Regions from separate parts of the Homo sapiens genome. Here regions 1 and 3 are each reported to be linked to region 2. The links are microRNA targets in miRTarBase. Many come from high-throughput screens and were not tested one by one. Region 2 holds a microRNA gene; each other region holds the end of a gene's coding sequence.
Evidence for each region. Region 2 holds the annotated microRNA hsa-miR-2114-5p (UAGUCCCUUCCUUGAAGCGGUC, at 2,203-2,224, opposite strand). A microRNA usually pairs through its seed, bases 2 to 8, with sites in the 3' UTR of a target mRNA and lowers its output. Matches are read on the target gene's strand: a 7mer-m8 pairs with bases 2 to 8, a 7mer-A1 pairs with bases 2 to 7 and ends in A, and an 8mer does both.

Region 1: miRTarBase lists ZNF354B as a target of hsa-miR-2114-5p. Seed matches in the 3' UTR shown: 7mer-A1 at 1,274-1,280.
Region 3: the mRNA of KLF17 is a reported target of hsa-miR-2114-5p. The part of its 3' UTR that is shown has no 7-base or 8-base seed match.

Annotation. Positions count from the first base shown.
Region 1 is chr5:178,883,582-178,886,933 of GRCh38, forward strand. It overlaps ZNF354B (zinc finger protein 354B), which reads left to right. Exons shown (of 5, transcript NM_058230.3): 5 at 1-1,439. The coding sequence ends at 710. It also overlaps the pseudogene RNU1-39P. Among named protein-coding and RNA genes, the nearest start is that of ZFP2, 11 kb to the right of the region's middle.
Region 2 is chrX:150,226,888-150,230,239 of GRCh38, reverse strand. MIR2114 (microRNA 2114) reads right to left here and starts at 2,236; the gene lies at 2,157-2,236.
Region 3 is chr1:44,130,284-44,133,283 of GRCh38, forward strand. It overlaps KLF17 (KLF transcription factor 17), which reads left to right. Exons shown (of 4, transcript NM_173484.4): 3 at 229-473; 4 at 2,955-3,000. The coding sequence ends at 473. Among named protein-coding and RNA genes, the nearest start is that of KLF18, 9.8 kb to the right of the region's middle.

The DNA.
Region 1 (3,352 bases), not on the chromosome of region 2:
CTGGAGAGAAGCCTTTTAAATGTAGTGAATGTGGGAGAGCCTTCAGCCAGAGTGCCTCTCTTATTCAACATGAAAGAATTCACACCGGAGAAAAGCCCTATAGATGCAATGAATGTGGGAAAGGCTTTACTTCTATTTCACGACTTAATAGACACCGAATAATTCATACTGGAGAGAAATTGTATAATTGTAATGAATGTGGTAAAGCCTTAAGCTCCCACTCAACACTTATTATTCATGAGCGAATTCATACTGGAGAAAAACCATGTAAATGTAAAGTATGTGGAAAAGCCTTCAGACAGAGTTCCGCTCTCATTCAACATCAGAGAATGCATACTGGAGAAAGACCCTATAAGTGTAACGAATGTGACAAAACATTCAGGTGTAACTCATCGCTTAGTAATCACCAGAGAATTCATACTGGAGAGAAACCATATCGATGTTTAGAATGTGGGATGTCTTTTGGCCAAAGTGCAGCTCTTATACAACATCAGAGGATTCATACAGGAGAAAAACCCTTTAAATGTAATACATGTGGAAAAACTTTTAGACAAAGCTCATCACTTATTGCACATCAAAGAATTCATACTGGAGAGAAACCCTATGAATGTAATGCATGTGGGAAACTCTTTAGCCAGAGGTCATCCCTTACTAATCATTATAAAATTCACATTGAAGAGGACTCCTTAAAAGCCGATTTGCATGTGTGAAAGCCTTAAACCAAAACTCATCAGAGAATACATGCTTGAGAGTGATTTATTAAATATAATGAATATGAGAAAACTCTTAGTTCTCATCAGATACTAAGTTTTAAGAATAAACTTTAGCTATGTAATAACTTATGGGAAAAGCTTTTATACTTGTCACTCACTTTTTAAAATATCCCGAGACAGTTCACTGTTGCAGACATTGAAATTGGCCATTTGTAAGATAAAAGGTATGTTTATAAAATCTCTTTATATAATATATGCTATCTATGACATGCAAAAAAGAAAAGTCTGGGTGCTGAGGTGCTGAATTTTTCATTAGAAAAACATTTGTATAAACTACTATTATATAAATATAAGCATATTTATTACAGCAAACATTTTAATAGCAAACAAAACAATTGATCTTAAAAATATATGCAATATATACTTACCTGGCAGGGAAGATTACCATGATCACGAAGGTGGTTTTCCCAGGGCAAGGCTTATCCATTGCACTCCAGATGTGCTGACCCCTTCAATTTCCCAAAATGTGGAAAACTCAACTGCATAATTTATGGTAGTGGGGGACTACATTCGCACTTTCTCCTGAAATATATATATATATGCAGTATTAGAGCAAAGGACCAATAAGAGATAAAAACTAACTGAACTACCTCTTAGTGCCTGGAATTTACCTTTTCCTGACTTACTGTCAAACTTCGTGCATGGCTTTTATTAAAAAAGAAAAAATCTGTTCTCTTCTTTGTTGTAGTCATGTCCAAACAACATCTAATAGCCTCCCATATTTTCTATACATTTCCTAGTTTTGTTTTCAGAATTTTTTCTTTATTGTCTTGAAGTCATATTTATTATGAAACCATACTTGCTATGCTCTGAACAGTAATGTTAGATAGTTTAGGTTGAAGCATTTTGTTTGTTTAGGCAATCACTTCAAGGTTAAAGCTATTAATATTTTTTTAGTTGGCTGCAGATGAAATCCTAATTGTTTAAAGAGCCTATCACTTGTGACAGTCTTCAGAAGGAATCAGTTTATGAAATAAAAGTTTTTTTTCCTCGTGGGGTTTTAAAAGTTTCAGACTGCAAAGGAAATTCTTTAAAAATAATTGTAAATTTCAAAACTGATTTACTTAGAAATGTTTGTTTAAGCCTGAGTTTGGGCCAGATATTATCCTGAGCGCTAGAAATTGTATAGAAGAAAGAAACAGACCTTAAAGAAGTCATGAATTGAGTGGGTGGAGAAGAGGAGGTTAAAGGGAGTAAGCAAATCATAATGTGTTGGGGTTTTCACAGATAAATAGTTAAGCTGTGATGCTGTGTTGCAGAATACAAATGGAGAGATTTGCATGGGATGCAGAAATATGGAAGACTAACCAAGCAGACCAGGAGAGACCAGCAATAGTGTCCCAGAGACCATGATGTCTGAGCCCAGTTTTGGAAGAATAGTAGGTATTCTTCATGAAGTGAGATCCTGAATAGAGGGAGCCACATATGCAAAGGTGTAGGGTGGGTGGGTGACAGCATATTACATTTGTAGAGAATCTATAGGAAGTAATGAAAAAGAAAAGCTTGAGAAGAAGGCAGTGGCTAGGTAACAAAAGGTCTTACTTGCCAAACTAAGGAATTTGAATTTTATTCTGAAATTTAGGGTACTAAGTAACGACTTTAAGTGATGGAAACTGTATTGCACGAATGTGTAGAGGATGAATTTAGGAGATTGAAGACTGCTGAACAGACTGAAGCCTAGAATTCAGCCTCCAGTGATGGGTGAAGGAGGCTCTAAGCTCAAGCAAGGATAGTCAGTGAAGAATATGTTGCACATGCTAATGTAGTAAGAATAGATAAGGCATAGTTTTTGCAATCAAATAATTGGGGAAGGTGATTGACACACAGGGTAGATTAACTTTACCTGGATGGATGGTGGTGTGATATGCCTTGTAGGCAATATAGGGGTAAACAGTTTGATTTTATACATGTTAAATGAGTCATCCAAACCCAAAAGGTCAATTTGAGCTGGATGGCTTGAGTTAGGAGTAATTAAGATATAGTTAGTGAAAAGCTTGGCACATGTAAATTGGCCATGAGAATGTACAGATTAGAATGAGAAAGGGATCATGGATACAACCCAGGAAAACATCAATATACAAGAAGTAGATGAAGGAATTGTGCAAAGATGAAAAGGAATGGCCCTGTATGTAGGAGAAAAGGCAGAAGAGTGATGTCACTGAACCCAAGGGATAAATGAATCTCAGATGGGCAGTAGTGTCAGGTGCTATAAAGGAAGTAATAAGGAGAGTAAATTGGTAAATGAGATAATTGTAGACTTTGGCAAGAGAAATTTCACTGAAGGAGGGTGAACAAGTAGGCTGTTGAAGACTATTTCAAATATAATTGAAGGGAAGAATGACTTAGGGACCATTTCTGGTTTAATAATGTATGCACATGTTGAGGGTAGATTAAAGAAGACATTGCTGGGAGGAACAACTTTTGTGAAATAAATTGGAGTCATAGCATAGGTGGAGGAATTAACCTTAATTTCAGGGATGGAAAAGCCCACATAAAGAAGGGAATACAGATAAGTGATTTGGAGGTGAAGGAATTTTCTGCCTGCTGACTCATTTTCTCTAAGGAGAAAGACTTCATTT
Region 2 (3,352 bases):
TGGAACTATGTTCATGAGAGGAATTGGTCTATAATGTTCATTTCTTGCAATATCCTTGTCAGGTTTTGGAATCAAGGTCATCTGGGACTCATAAAAAGGTTATGGGACACCCCAGCAGAGAAGATGGCTGTGGAAGGCCCTGGGGAATGATGGTGTGCTCAGAAGATCAGGAATGAGAAGAGCAGCACCTGTAGTGGAAGCTGCCAGCCTGGCTGTCTTGGGAAATAATGGCCAAGTTCTCCCTGTTCCCTGTAGATCCTGTCTCCACAGTGGCATGATGAGGGGTGGGAACATCAGGTTCAGAAAAGGTCTTTCTGCTCTCAGCTTCTCACAAGCTTAACTGAAGCCCCCCGCCGGGGTGATAGAAGATATGACTTCCCCTGAGTTTGGTAGAGGCAAGCATTTCCCTTTGAAAGCTTGTTGGTCATTGGTCATCTCCGTGGTCTCTTCTAAACCCCAAGAGTCATCCAGGGCCATGCACCCAGGGGCTTTTTCCACCTCTCCATTCAGAGCCTTTGATGCCCCTTACACACCTCTTATCAGCTGTTGAACAAACTGTGACCTGTCTCCAAGAATGCTGGCCAGCTGAGGCTGACAATGGGGCTTGGCCAACCAAAGTGATATGGATAGCAACTGGCAGAGGGCCAGGATGGCATAAATGTCAAAAGGTGCTTGCACTTGCTGCTGTGACTGCTAGCTGTGGTCTTAAGGTATCTTGCAGAGGAGGGGGTAAAGGATGGTCCCAGAGGCACCAAAAGGGGCAACAAGCACAGACATTTTTAACTGCCACTCAGAGAACAACAACTCTGTGCCAAGCCCTGTGCTGAGGGCTCTACACTCACAATCTTCTTCATATACACATGGGTCTCACTGAAACCATAACACAGCAGAGTGGGAAGGGATATTTTAACCAACTAAGGTGTTCACTTGCCAGTGCCTGGGATCCAAAGTCAGCATAGCCACTCTATACGCTCAATCATTGGGAGAGGGTAGGAGGAGCCAGTTGGCTTAGTGACACATTTAACTTGGAGTACATTCATCAAGACATGCCTGGAAAAGGCCACAGAGGAAAGGCTCCAGAGAGGAAGATAGCACTGGGTGACTGAACTGAGGGGACCACAGCTTCATAAGAAGGGCAACAAGAACCAGGCTCAGCACTTATTCTGGTGTTCACTCAACAGCATACAATGTCATCACATTCACTCTCTTACTGGAACCTCCTAGGGCGCCCAGGAAGTCAGCAGGGCAGGAGTCTTCTCCCCTCTGAACAAATGAGGAAAGTAAGGTTCAGAGAGGTGAGGTGACTTTACTTGCCAAAGACCTATTACTGGTATGGTAGGCTAAATAATGGCCCACAAAGATGTCCACATCCTAACCCCTGGAACCTGTGAATATGACTTTATATGGCAAAAGGGACTTTGTGTATGTAATTAAGTTAAGGATCTTGAAGTGAGAAGGTTGTCCTAGATTATCTGGGAAGGCTGTGAATGCAATCACAAGTGTCCTTATAAGAGGAAGGCAGAAGGAGATTTGGCACAGACAGAAGAAAAAGGGATGTGATGACAAGAGCTCCATGTGTATATCAAGGATTGTGAGTGTAAAGCCTTCAGCACAGGGCTTGGCGCAGAGTCATTCTCTGAGTAGCAGTTAAAGCAATCTGTGCTTGTCACCCCTTTGGTGCCTCTGGGACCTCCTCCGCAAGATACCTTAAGAAAGAGATTGAAACGATGTGCTTTGAAGATGGAGGAGGGGGTGATGAGCCAAGGAATACAGGTGGCCAACCTGAAAAAGGCAAAGTAATGGATTCTCCCCTCAGAGCCTCCAAAAGCATCCAGCCCTGTTGACACCTTGATTTTAGGCCAGTGAAACTGATTTGTTTTGGACCTCTGACCTCCAAAAGTATAATAGTAAATTTGCATTGTTTTAAGCCACTATGTTGGTGGTAATTTGTTATAACAGCAATGAGAAACTGATCCATCTGGTGAGTGGCAGAACTGGGACAGAAGCCAGTCATCTCATCACCCAGGCAAAGGCAGACGCCATCATCTGCTTCTTGGCAAAGTTTCCCAGGGCCTGGATAGATGTGGGAGTGGAGGATGGGAGGACTTCAATAGGAGGCAATGATGGTTCGGAAGCAGGAAGCTAGCTGCTGGAAGCCACCAGCTTGAAGTCCCTTGCTTGAGGCTCGTCATGTGATTATCCGACCGCTTCAAGGAAGGGACTAGGAGCATGGAGGCAGAGGCCTGTCTTTGGCCCCAGAAGCTGGGACGTTTGATCCATTGCTGACTGGGTGAGGGTCCTGCTGATTGAGATGGAGAGTCCTTAGAGGCAAGACTGGACCGATGACTTCTTGAGGTGCTTTTCAGCTCTCAGGTTCTGTCAGTCCCTCTTCATGGAATCCTAGGTGCCAAAAGCAGACCCAGGAAGCCTGTGGCCCTGATAACCCAAGGCAACCTCTGTCTCTCTAAATGTTCCTGTGGAACCGAGTAAGCATAATCCCAGAGGGCAGTTTGGGACAGCTCACACCCTTCCAGTGGCGGTGAAAATTGGTCATTCCCCTTGGAGAGAGGAGGCGCTCTTGGCAATTTTCCAGAGCTCTACCCTCCTTCCTTTGTGCCCAAACAGCTGTGGGCAGATCAGGCTGGGGGTAGAAAGGAATGAATTCTATTTTCTTCCCTCCCTGAGGTACTCCATGTGGTCACAGAAGGCTGCACAGGAAATATAACGGTTGACAGACGTGCGGTGTTTTGTGATGTGAAAATTAAAATCACCAGGAAATGTTCACGTTCTCTCTCTCCTTCTCTCCCCCCCTCCCCTATCTTCCTTCCTCTGAGCCTTTCTCTCTCTCTGTTCTCACTCTTCCTCTGTTGCCTTTTTCCCCCCAGTTCATTTTAAGTCCCTCAAACTTCCTACCTCCAAGAACAACTCTCTAGTTGAGGCTTGGACTTTACAACTTTCACAAATCACTTTGAATCCTTAAGGTGCCTACAGACCTCTCAGTTTGAGCAATTATGGGAGGGAGAACAAAGAATCAGGGTGGGCGAGCTTCCAGCCACCACTGCCATAAAGTTAAGTGACAACTGTTCACTCCCAAGCCTCTGAGTCTGGACAGGTTTGAAAAATTTGTTTTAATCTCAAAAATCTATTCCCAATGAGCAATTAGAAGCCATTTCCTTGAGCTCTTACTATATCCCAAACTTCGGTTTAGTTAAATTTTGTGAGGTTCAAATTTTGCACCTTGAGACTCTACTTTTCTCTAAATTTCACAATTTAGGGATAAGGGTCTGTTTGTATTCAGCACTGATTGGAATGAAAACATCATTGAGCTTGCCAAGCTGAGACCTGGAATACC
Region 3 (3,000 bases), not on the chromosome of region 2:
GAGCCTTTCATCTTCCAAGCTTGGAACTAAGCTAGACTGGCCCCCCGACTTGCCATACAGGAGGACTGTGCCAAGATGACTGGGGCGGGCACTCCTGATTGTGTTGCCCCTCCCTGGTTCCCTGGACCTTCCCTTTTGAATCCTCAACCTGGACTGCTCTGCCTCACAGAGTTAGACCCCTTCCTTCCTACTGTATTCTAAATTCCATCTCTCCCTTGTCATTCCCAGGTGAGAGGCCATATTCTTGCAACTGGGAAAGTTGTTCATGGTCTTTCTTCCGTTCTGATGAGCTTAGACGACATATGCGGGTACACACCAGATATCGACCATATAAATGTGATCAGTGCAGCCGGGAGTTCATGAGGTCTGACCATCTCAAGCAACACCAGAAGACTCATCGGCCGGGACCCTCAGACCCACAGGCCAACAACAACAATGGAGAGCAGGACAGTCCTCCTGCTGCTGGTCCTTAGGTCAGTCTCCTCTCCTCATTCTGGGTTTTCTTTTTCCTTTTTTCCTTTTTATTTTTTTGAGACGGAGTCTCACTCTGTCTCCCAGGCTGGAGTGCAGTGGCGCAATTCGGTTCACTGCACCTTCCACCTCCCAGGTTCAAGTGATTTTCCTGCCTCAGCCTCCCGAGTAGCTAGGACTACAGGCACGTGCCACCAGGCCCGGGTAATTTTTTGTATTTTTAGTAGAGACGGGGTTTCACTGTGTTAGCCAGGATGGTCTCGATCTCCTGACCTCATGATCCGCCCACGCTGGCCTCCCAAAGTGCTGGGATTACAGGCGTGAGCCACCGCAGCCGGCCTCATTCTGGCTTTTCTACACAGATCCTACCTGCCTCTGACCAGTTCTTCTCTTTGGTGGGTGTAGGATTAGATGAAGACAGGAAGATTATGGGTCAGTGTTGAAGCCTACACGGAGCTCTGGAGCCAGAGACTCCTCAAACCCTGTCTCGGATGCCCTTAACCTCTCTGGGGCCACCTGCTTCTGCTGGAGTTTAGTCAGATGCGAATGTGGAGCACAGTAGAGACTGGGAGCTTCATTAAAATGCTCTTTATTTCTTGTCGCTCCCCAGCTTAAAACCCTTTAGTGACTCCTTTGCTTGCTACATAAAATCCAGTTTCCAGAGCCAGACTATTTTCAAATCCTGAATTTGCCACTTAATATCCATGTGACCTTGAGAAAGTTCTTGGATCACTATGCTTTGTTTCTTCCAGAAAATGAAAAAACTAGTTTTGTACTGTATTAGACGTGGCACATATACTGCATCATTCTCCCTGGCACTCACTGGCCATGTACCCAGAGTTTCTGTTTCTTCCCACCACTTTACAGACTTGGATGGAATGCCCTGGCATAGGGCATGGGATCTGGCATCCCAAGTTGCTGCTAGCAAACTTAGAAGTGTGGGGAAATTTATTTATTTGAGACAGAGTCTTGCTCTGCCACCATGGCTGGAGTACAGTGGTGTGATCTCAGCTCACTGCAACCTCTGCCTCCCGGGTTCAAACGATTCTCCTGCTTCAGCCTCCTGAATAGCTGGGATTACAGGCAAGCACCACCACACCCAGCTAATTTTTGTATTTTTTGTAGAGACGGGGTTTCACCATGTTGGCCAGACTAATCTCAAACTCCTGGCTTCAAGTAGTCTGCCCACCTCAGCTTCCCAAAATGCTGGGATTACAAGCATAAGCCATGGTGTCTGGCTGGGAGTTAATATTTATGGGATAAAATTTGAGGCCGGGCGCAGTGGCTCACGCCTGTAATCCCAATACTTTGGGAGGCTGAGGCGGGTGGATCACAAGGTCAGGAGTCTTGAGACTAGCCTGGCTAATATGGTGAAACCCTGTCTCTACAAAAAATACAAAAATTAGCTAGGCATGGTGGCGTGCGCCTGTAGTCCCAGTTATTCGAGAGGCTGAGGCAGGAGAATGGCTTGAACCCGGGAGGTGGAGGTTGCGGTGAGCCAAGATTGTGCCATTGCACTCCAGCCTGGGTGACAGCAAGACTCCATCTCAAAAAAAAAATTTTTTTTTTGACTAGTGGAAAATGGGAGATAGGTGAGACTCAGGCAAATCAATTCCCCCTTTTCCCCTGCCTTTCATAAATTGCTGCATGGCACCAACTCTCCAAAACAGTACCATCAATGGGGAGGCCTCCCAAGTAGCCGGTGGACAGAACTACTGTGACCTCTGCAAGGCTTGTCATGAAGCAGTGCCCACCCCAGCCTATTAAATACATCACCTTACGTTACTTCCCATTCTTTCCCGCCTTTCTTCCATTTTCTCACTTCCAATGCCTTGGGTTTGCACCTCTCCAAATAAAACACCAGTACTTAGTTCTTGTTTTCAGGCTCTGTATTCTAGGTGACTGAGGACTAGGAGGGAGAGGAGGACCTAAGCCTGGGGCAGATAAAGATGAATCTCACTGTAACTTCTTCTCCTCCCACCTTCCTTAGGTCCCTGGACTACAAAGCACCAGATATTAAGTGGCCTATCTTTCCTTGCTCTCCCTTGGGGTTAAGGGGATAATGACTATCTTGGCAAACCAGCCAGGTAGTTTAGAACCTCATATTTAGACTCGGCAGGCTGTTTTACTCCAGGAAATTGATAGAGAGAAAGGAACTTGGCCAAGCTATCAAGTGCAGATCTAGAATCCCAACCAGGATCTGTCTGCCCCAGAGGTGGTCTCTTCCGTAAGAAGATGGTGCCTTCTATGGGTGTTTCCTGAACGAGGCTGGTGCCAAGCACAGAGAGATGAATCAGAGCTGGTTTCTGTGCTCAAGGGACCGTCTTGATCTGGGGGCTCAGAGGTCCACCTCGGTACAGTAGCCATGGGGAAGAGGAGCCCCTAATGGAAGGGTCAGAAAGGCTCTCTGGAGGAGGTAATCCCTGGGCCCAGTAAGAGTGTAACACCTAGTAATCCCTCAAATTTTGAAATAAACTGAACAGGTGAATGAAGAAGGAAGAGGATTCCAGGCTGAGAGCACTGGACGTG